2 separate regions of the Homo sapiens genome follow, and region 2 is reported to be linked to region 1. The links are microRNA targets in miRTarBase. Many come from high-throughput screens and were not tested one by one. Region 1 holds a microRNA gene; the other region holds the end of a gene's coding sequence.

Region 1 (3,386 bases):
CACGCACCCAAGGAGACACTGTCCCGGCGAGGAGCCTGGAGCCTGGGAAATACAAGGCATCAGACTGGTCCCAAGACTCTCCCCAGCGCTGGGGACAACTGTCTGCTTATCTTAGTCCCCTCCGCCCTTTTCAATCCAACCCTGGGTCCTGGGCACCTCATAGTTCCAAACCCCTGCTATGCACATCCCGGCTGTGATGCCTGGGACAGGTCGTGTCACCTCTCCAAACCTGTTTCCTCATCTGTGAAATGCAAATCTCCACGGTCCCTATGCCTCGGATGGTCAGAGTCAGGATTCCGCATGACGACCCCCAACAGGAGCCTGGCACAGACCTGGCTCTGGGCAGCGTCTCCATAAAGGCCACCTGTTGTTTTTATCTCCCGAAAGCGAACATGACAAGGCTTTAACCCCCCACGGCAATCCCCCCTCACCCCTGTTCTCAGGATAGCCTTGGAACCCAATAGCAGAGCGCCTGAGGCCCTTCATGACCCCAGCCCACCCGCGAGCCCACCTCCCACCCTGCCCCTACCCCTCACACCTCCCGTGGCCAGCCTCCAGCCTCACGGTCTTTGCTCACACCGTTCACCCCCCTTCTTCTGGACCCACCTCATCGCCCCTTCCTAAGCATCAGCCCAATTCTTGCACATCCATCAAATCCTTTTCCAGACACCTCCTGGAACTCTTCCCTGCCGCCCCCTACAGCCATCCCCACCTCTCCGGGTACCCCGCAGCCCCAGGCCGCATCCCAATTCCTCTCCAATTAGCGACTGTTTGTCCTCCCAGCTGAGCGCGGCCTCCGCGCCCCGCCCCCGCTGGCGTCTGCAGAGCCCCCGGGTGGGACGTCTGTCTCCAGACCCGGGGTTTTTCGGCTCCCCGGGGCCGTGCCAACCGCGGCTCCAGGCGTTCCTTATTTAGCAGGGCCGCCGTGCCGCGCCGGAGCCTCGCCCTGGGAGCGTCCTGGCCCGCGTCCTGCTTCCCGTCCCGGGCCAGGGAACGCGCCCACGCCCGCCCGTCCCGCGGCCTCTCCCGGGTGCCGCTGGGCCCGCTACTCACAGCGCTGTGGCGTCCGCGGGGATGCGCAGCGCGGGACCGAGCGTCCGCAGCCCGCGGCCCGAGCAGTTGACGCGGCAGGCGGCGCCGGGCGCTGGGCCGCAGAGGCAGGGGGGCTCGCAGGGCCCGCAGCCGCGCCCGGGGCCCCCCGCCAGCGCCCCGAGCCACAGGCCCAGGCCCAGGGCCAGCGCCAGGCGGGCGGGCGCGGCGGGCGGCATCGTTAGGGCAGCGCGCGCATGGCCCCGCCGTCCCCAGGCCCGCCCGCGCGCGGAGGCCGCAGCTCAGGCGGGGCCCGCGGACGGCATGGCGGGCGCGGGGCTGGATGGGGCTGCGGCCGCGACCTGCTGCTGAGCGACGCCCGCTCGGGGCTCGGGGCCAGGCCGCTCCGGGAGCTCGGCCGCCCGCTCGGACGCTGGCGCTGCAGTGCGGGCCCCGCCGCGGCTCCTCCTCCTCCTCCCCGCGCGGCGCGGGGCGGACGGGGCGAGGGGGGGCGGGGCGGGTGCAGGCTCCGCCCCCTTCGCCACAGCGCGACCGGGCCAGCGATGAGGGACTGGCATCCGGAGGCTTCACCCTCCGCTCCACAGGGTCGGCAGCAGGGCGGGGCCTCCGGAAGCTCCGCCCCACGCGTTCCCGGGGCGCATGCGACGTGGGGCGGAGCGTCTGGAAGCTCCGCCCGTCGCACTGCAGAGTCGGCCGAGGCGCACGAGCTATTTTTCACGCTCCGCCCCGCTGCAGGCTAAAGTGCGTGGGCGGGAAGCGGTGGGCAGGGTGCCATCTGGCTCCGCCCTTCTCCTGTGGTGTGGGCCAGGCGGCGGGTTCCTCCTCCTGCAGCAGCCACAGGCTCCACCCTGATCCTTCTTCCGCGGTGTGGATCCTTCTCCCGCAATCTCCGTGCGCGGCCCGAGTCAGTACCCGCAGCCTCCCGACGCACCCGCTGGCTCCAAGCCTCCCTACCCCAGGTTTCCTGGCTGAGAGAGAGACAGAGGGAGAGAGGGGGAAGAGAGAGAACAGGCAATGGGAGGTTGATGGTGAGAGCTTATTGAAAGACAAGAGGGAGGAAACCCACATCCTTCATTCCCCATCCATTCATTTATTGCCTTATTTATTCCATTGAATCTTCACAGCTCTAGAAAAAGTGTGCTACAATTATTCCCTTTATTAAATGAGGTCACTGAGGCACAGACAGTTTAAGAAATTTGCCAGCAGGGCACAGTGGCTCACTCCGGTAATCCCAGAACTTTGAGAGGGGGAGGAAGGTGGATCCCTTGAGTCCAGGAGTTGGAGACCAGCCTGGCCAACATGGCGAGACCCCGTTTCTACAAAAATTAGCCAAAATTAGCCAAACTGGCTCACGCTTGTAGTCCCAGGTACTCGAGAGGCTGAGGCCGGAGGAGCGTGTGAGCCCAGTAGGCAGTGGCTGCGCTGAGCCGTGATTGTGCCACTGCACTCCCGCCTGGGCAAAAGAGTAAGATCCTGTCTCGAAAAAAAAAAAAATGGAAAAAAGAAAAAAAGAACTGGCTGGGAGTGGTGGCTCATGCCTGTAATCCCAGCACTTTGGGAGGCCGAGGCGGGCAGATCACAAGATCAGAAGTTCGAGACCAGCCTAGCCAACATGGTGAAACCTCATCTCTACTAAAAATACAAAAATCAGCTGGGCATGGTGGCAGGCACCTATAATCCCAGCTACTAGGGAGCCTGAGGCAATAGAATCGCTTGAACCTGGGAGGCAGAGGTTGTGCCACTGCACTCCAGCCTGGGCAACAGAGCAAGACTCCGTCTCAAAAAAAAAAAAAGAAATTTACCAGGTCACACAGCAGGTGGATGGTAAGGCTGCGATTGTATTCCAAACCCAGCTTTTAATTGCAGTCAAATGACAGACTTAAGATTCAAGGACTCCAGTGGAGGGAAGAAACAGCCACAAGAAACTGCTGCCAAATGAGCAAAACAGATTAACCAAGTCTCAATGATTGTTTGAAGGCGGTTGTGGAATAAAATGCAATTGTTTAGAAAGGATTTCTTAAATAGAAAAGACATATGTTTAAAGAAGCAAATTAGTTACCTGGAAATGAAATTCTAAACTATTTGAAAAACCATGGGGGCCGGGCGTGGTGGCTCATGCCTGTAATCCCAGCACTTTGGGAGGCCAAGGTGGGCAGATCACAAGGTCAGGAGTTCGAGACCAGCCTGACCAACATGGTGAAACCCCGTCTCTACTAAAAATACAAAAATTAGCTGGGGGTGGTGCCACGCGCCTGTAATCCCAGCTACTCAGGAGGCTGAGACAGGAGAATCGCTTGAACCCAGGAGGTGGAGGTTGCAGTGAGCTGAGATTGTGC
Region 2 (3,386 bases), not on the chromosome of region 1:
CATCGGCCTCACCCAGCGCAGGATTCTAGCTGCTCAATTCAGGGCCATGGGGCCCCAGGTTGTAGCCTCGGCCCCAGAACCTACCCGGCCCCCCAGTGGCTTCGTCCCTGTCTCTGGGGGTGGGGGCACCCACGTCACCCAGGTGCACATCCAGCTGGCACCATCCCCACACAATGGGACCCCTGAGCCTCCCAGGACAGCCCCAGAAGTGGGATCCAACAGCCAGGATGGAGATGCCACCCCAAGTCCCCCCAGGGCCCAGCCCCTGGTCCCAGTGGCTCACATCCGCCCACTGCCCACCACAGTCCAGGCTGCCAGTCCCTTGCCTGAGGAGCCCCCTGTACCACGGCCGCCACCCGGCTTCCAGGCCTCAGTGCCCAGAGAGGCTAGTGCCAGGGTTGTGGTGCCCATAGCCCCGACCTGCCGCTCGCTGGAGTCCTCACCGCACAGCCTGGTCCCCATGGGCCCTGGCAGAGAGCACCTGGAGGAGCCCCCGATGGCTGGCCCCGCCGCTGAGGCCGAGCGAGTGTCCAGCCCTGCCTGGGCCTCATCCCCTACCCCACCATCAGGCCCTCACCCATGCCCTGTCCCCAAAGTTGCACCCAAGCCCCGGCTCAGTGGCTGGACGTGGCTCAAGAAGCAGCTGCTGGAGGAGGCCCCAGAGCCTCCGTGCCCAGAGCCGCGGCAGAGCCTGGAGCCAGAGGTGCCCACCCCCACAGAGCAGGAGGTGCCTGCCCCCACAGAGCAGGAGGTGCCCGCCCTCACCGCACCCCGGGCCCCCGCCTCCCGGACCTCCAGGATGTGGGATGCCGTGCTGTACCGCATGTCAGTGGCGGAGGCCCAAGGGCGCCTGGCAGGGCCCAGCGGTGGGGAGCACACCCCAGCCAGCCTCACCCGCCTGCCCTTCCTGTACCGGCCTCGCTTCAACGCCCGGAAGCTGCAGGAGGCCACCCGGCCCCCTCCCACAGTCCGCTCCATCCTGGAGCTGAGCCCCCAGCCCAAGAACTTCAACCGCACAGCGACTGGCTGGAGGCTCCAGTGAAGTGGCCAGAATGGCCCCCAGAGCCCAGGACCATGGGATGGACAGAAGAAGGGGCTGAGGCTCTAGCTGGGGGCCCATAGTTGCTGCATGAAGATGCACCAGGGCCCAAGGGGCATGGGGTGCAGGGCAGCCTGGGAAGGGCACATGGGGTGCTGAGGGAAGTCTGCATGGTTAGGAGGGTGGTCAGGTGGACGGGGCAGAGAGGACGAGCTGGAGCCCCTGGGCTGCAGTGGTGTGAGGGGAACAGAGAAGGGGTCTGCGTCGGGATGTAGGATGGGGGCCTTGGGATGAAAACTTTAGGTAAGATGGCAGAGGACTGCATCTACTGACCTAGCCCAGGCTCCTCAGGGGCCTGGGCCTCTCACTGATCCTCCCTTTTGCTGTCACCTTTTGCTGTCAAAGGTTTGGGGCCAGATCTCTGCTTGCTGAGGCATGGGTGCGGTCAGGCTGGCTTGGCCATCGGCGTCAGGAGCAGTCAGCAGTTTTGCTGCCTGTGCTTCCTGATGGCAGAGCCAGATCCTGGGACTAGGGTGCAGGGGGGAGCCCTCAGCCAGCGTGGGACTTGGCACCAATACAAGTGCTCAGGGGCAGGCAGGGAGGGGCTCATCAGGGGTGGAGGAGGGCCCAGCGTGACCTCTCTCTCGGCCCACCTCTGCTTCCCCTACCTGGGCTGACAGCCTGAGGGGGCAGAACTCGAGGGATTCGCTGGTGGGACAGCGAGGGTCTCAGCACTGGCCATGCCCAGGCTTTGACAGCTGGATGAGGAGGGAGCCCTCAGTCCCAACCCTATGGGAACAGCTTGGCCAAGCGGGACAGAGAAGGGGCTGTGGCCCTGGTGGGGAGAGTGGAGGGGCCTACTCAGCAGTCAGCCAGGCTCTGGTGGGGGTGGCCAACCACAGGAGAGGGACACAGAGGTACCAGAAAAAGCCTCTGCCACAGCTGCTTGAGAGTCAGGGTTTGGCAGGGGAAGATGGTAGGAGGACAGCTGCCCCACCCTGTGGTGTGATGGGTGCTGGAAATGGAGCCTGGGGCCCAGGTCACTAATAAATGTGTGTCTCACCATGGCAGGAGTGGCACTGCTCTGTCTGCAGCATGGGATGGGGAGGGCATCAGGACCTCTGAATCGCTCTCGGCTGGGACAGGGAGTAGGACCTAAGTTCCTGCCCCTCTATGGACCCTCAGCATACAGATGGTCAGGGAACCTGGGCTCCATGCCACCTGCTTCCTTCAATGCTAGCCCTGTGGTGGCCAGGCTGCCCCTCACTTCCCTCACGAGCCCTGCTGTGGCTTTTGGGGAGTCCCAGATGGGAGCCTTGAGCTTCCCTAGTGGAGCAGTGGCTGAGCCGGGCTGACTCTAGTGAAATGAGCAGAGAGTTTGAATCTGGTATCAGGTGAGAGAGGCAGCATCTGCACAGGACTGGGAGACTGAGCTGGTCTGGGTTCTGGCCAACTCGGAGTCCACCCTTGTAGCCTGCAACAGGGCTCCAGGCAGCCTCCAGGTTGCCAAGTTCCCAGCACAGTGCACGTGTGTGCACCTCATCCCCTTCTGTGAGTTGCCAGGGACTCACCGAGATGGGACGCCTAGGGAGCCGGGCCCCCTTCCACAAGCACCTTCTCATACTTCCCATGCCCGGTGGCCACAAACTTATACCTCTTCCCAGATGGGGTGCTCTGTTGGGAAAGGAGACCAAGAGTGAAGGTGAGAGCAGCAGAAAGGAGATGATGCTGCCTCCGCCTCTGGGAAGCCCTCCCAGATGCACAGAGGACAGTCCCTCTTTGCCCTCCCCTGCTGCACCCACCCTGCCTGCACCAACCACATTTAGGCTCTACCTTAATTGTTGATGAGGTCTTGGAGCCTCCCTTCTGCTCCCAGAGGCTTTTCTTGCTCATGTCTCCAGCCACAATATCCTGGGGGCAGCAGAAGGGTATGTCACAAGGGCAGACCCCTGGATCTTGGGGAGTAGAAGCCCTGGGCCCTTCTCTCCCGCCTTGCCTTACCTGGCCAGGGGGCCTGGGATCTGCCTACCTAAACTTTTTCTGTGTGATCCCAGTGGAAGAGGCAGGGAAAGGAATAAAGGTGCCATCTACCTCCACTCGGACAACACAGCCTTCTACACCAGCAAGGGTGAACCCAACCCTACTGCAATACCTCAGGGTTCTGTATACCCACATTCATCCTGGACAGTCCCATGCTTGTCTTAACAAGGAAACCCGGCCTGCTACTAAACTCCCAGGCGCTGGCTCTGCAGCCCAGCCTTGCCCCTGGAGGGGACCTTACCTTGCAGGACGGAGTCTTGGCCGCAGACTGAGCCTGTACCTCACCCGTCTCCCACCGACTCTTGGT

Evidence for each region. Region 1 holds the annotated microRNA hsa-miR-3180-3p (UGGGGCGGAGCUUCCGGAGGCC, at 1,652-1,673, opposite strand). A microRNA usually pairs through its seed, bases 2 to 8, with sites in the 3' UTR of a target mRNA and lowers its output. Matches are read on the target gene's strand: a 7mer-m8 pairs with bases 2 to 8, a 7mer-A1 pairs with bases 2 to 7 and ends in A, and an 8mer does both.
Region 2: the mRNA of LSP1 is a reported target of hsa-miR-3180-3p. The part of its 3' UTR that is shown has no 7-base or 8-base seed match.

Annotation. Positions count from the first base shown.
Region 1 is chr16:2,134,422-2,137,807 of GRCh38, forward strand. It overlaps MIR3180-5 (microRNA 3180-5), which reads right to left and starts at 1,708; the gene lies at 1,556-1,708. PKD1 (polycystin 1, transient receptor potential channel interacting) reads right to left here and starts at 1,477. Exons shown (of 46, transcript NM_001009944.3): 1 at 1,054-1,477. The coding sequence starts at 1,268. RefSeq lists silencers at 1,406-1,575, 1,586-1,845.
Region 2 is chr11:1,886,801-1,890,186 of GRCh38, reverse strand. It overlaps LSP1 (lymphocyte specific protein 1), which reads right to left. Exons shown (of 11, transcript NM_002339.3): 8 at 3,321-3,386; 9 at 2,873-2,950; 10 at 2,611-2,713. The coding sequence ends at 2,624. It overlaps PRR33 (proline rich 33), which reads left to right. Exons shown (of 1, transcript NM_001395380.1): 1 at 1-2,109. The coding sequence ends at 1,042. Among named protein-coding and RNA genes, the nearest start is that of PRR33, 3.4 kb to the left of the region's middle. RefSeq lists a silencer at 2,814-2,980.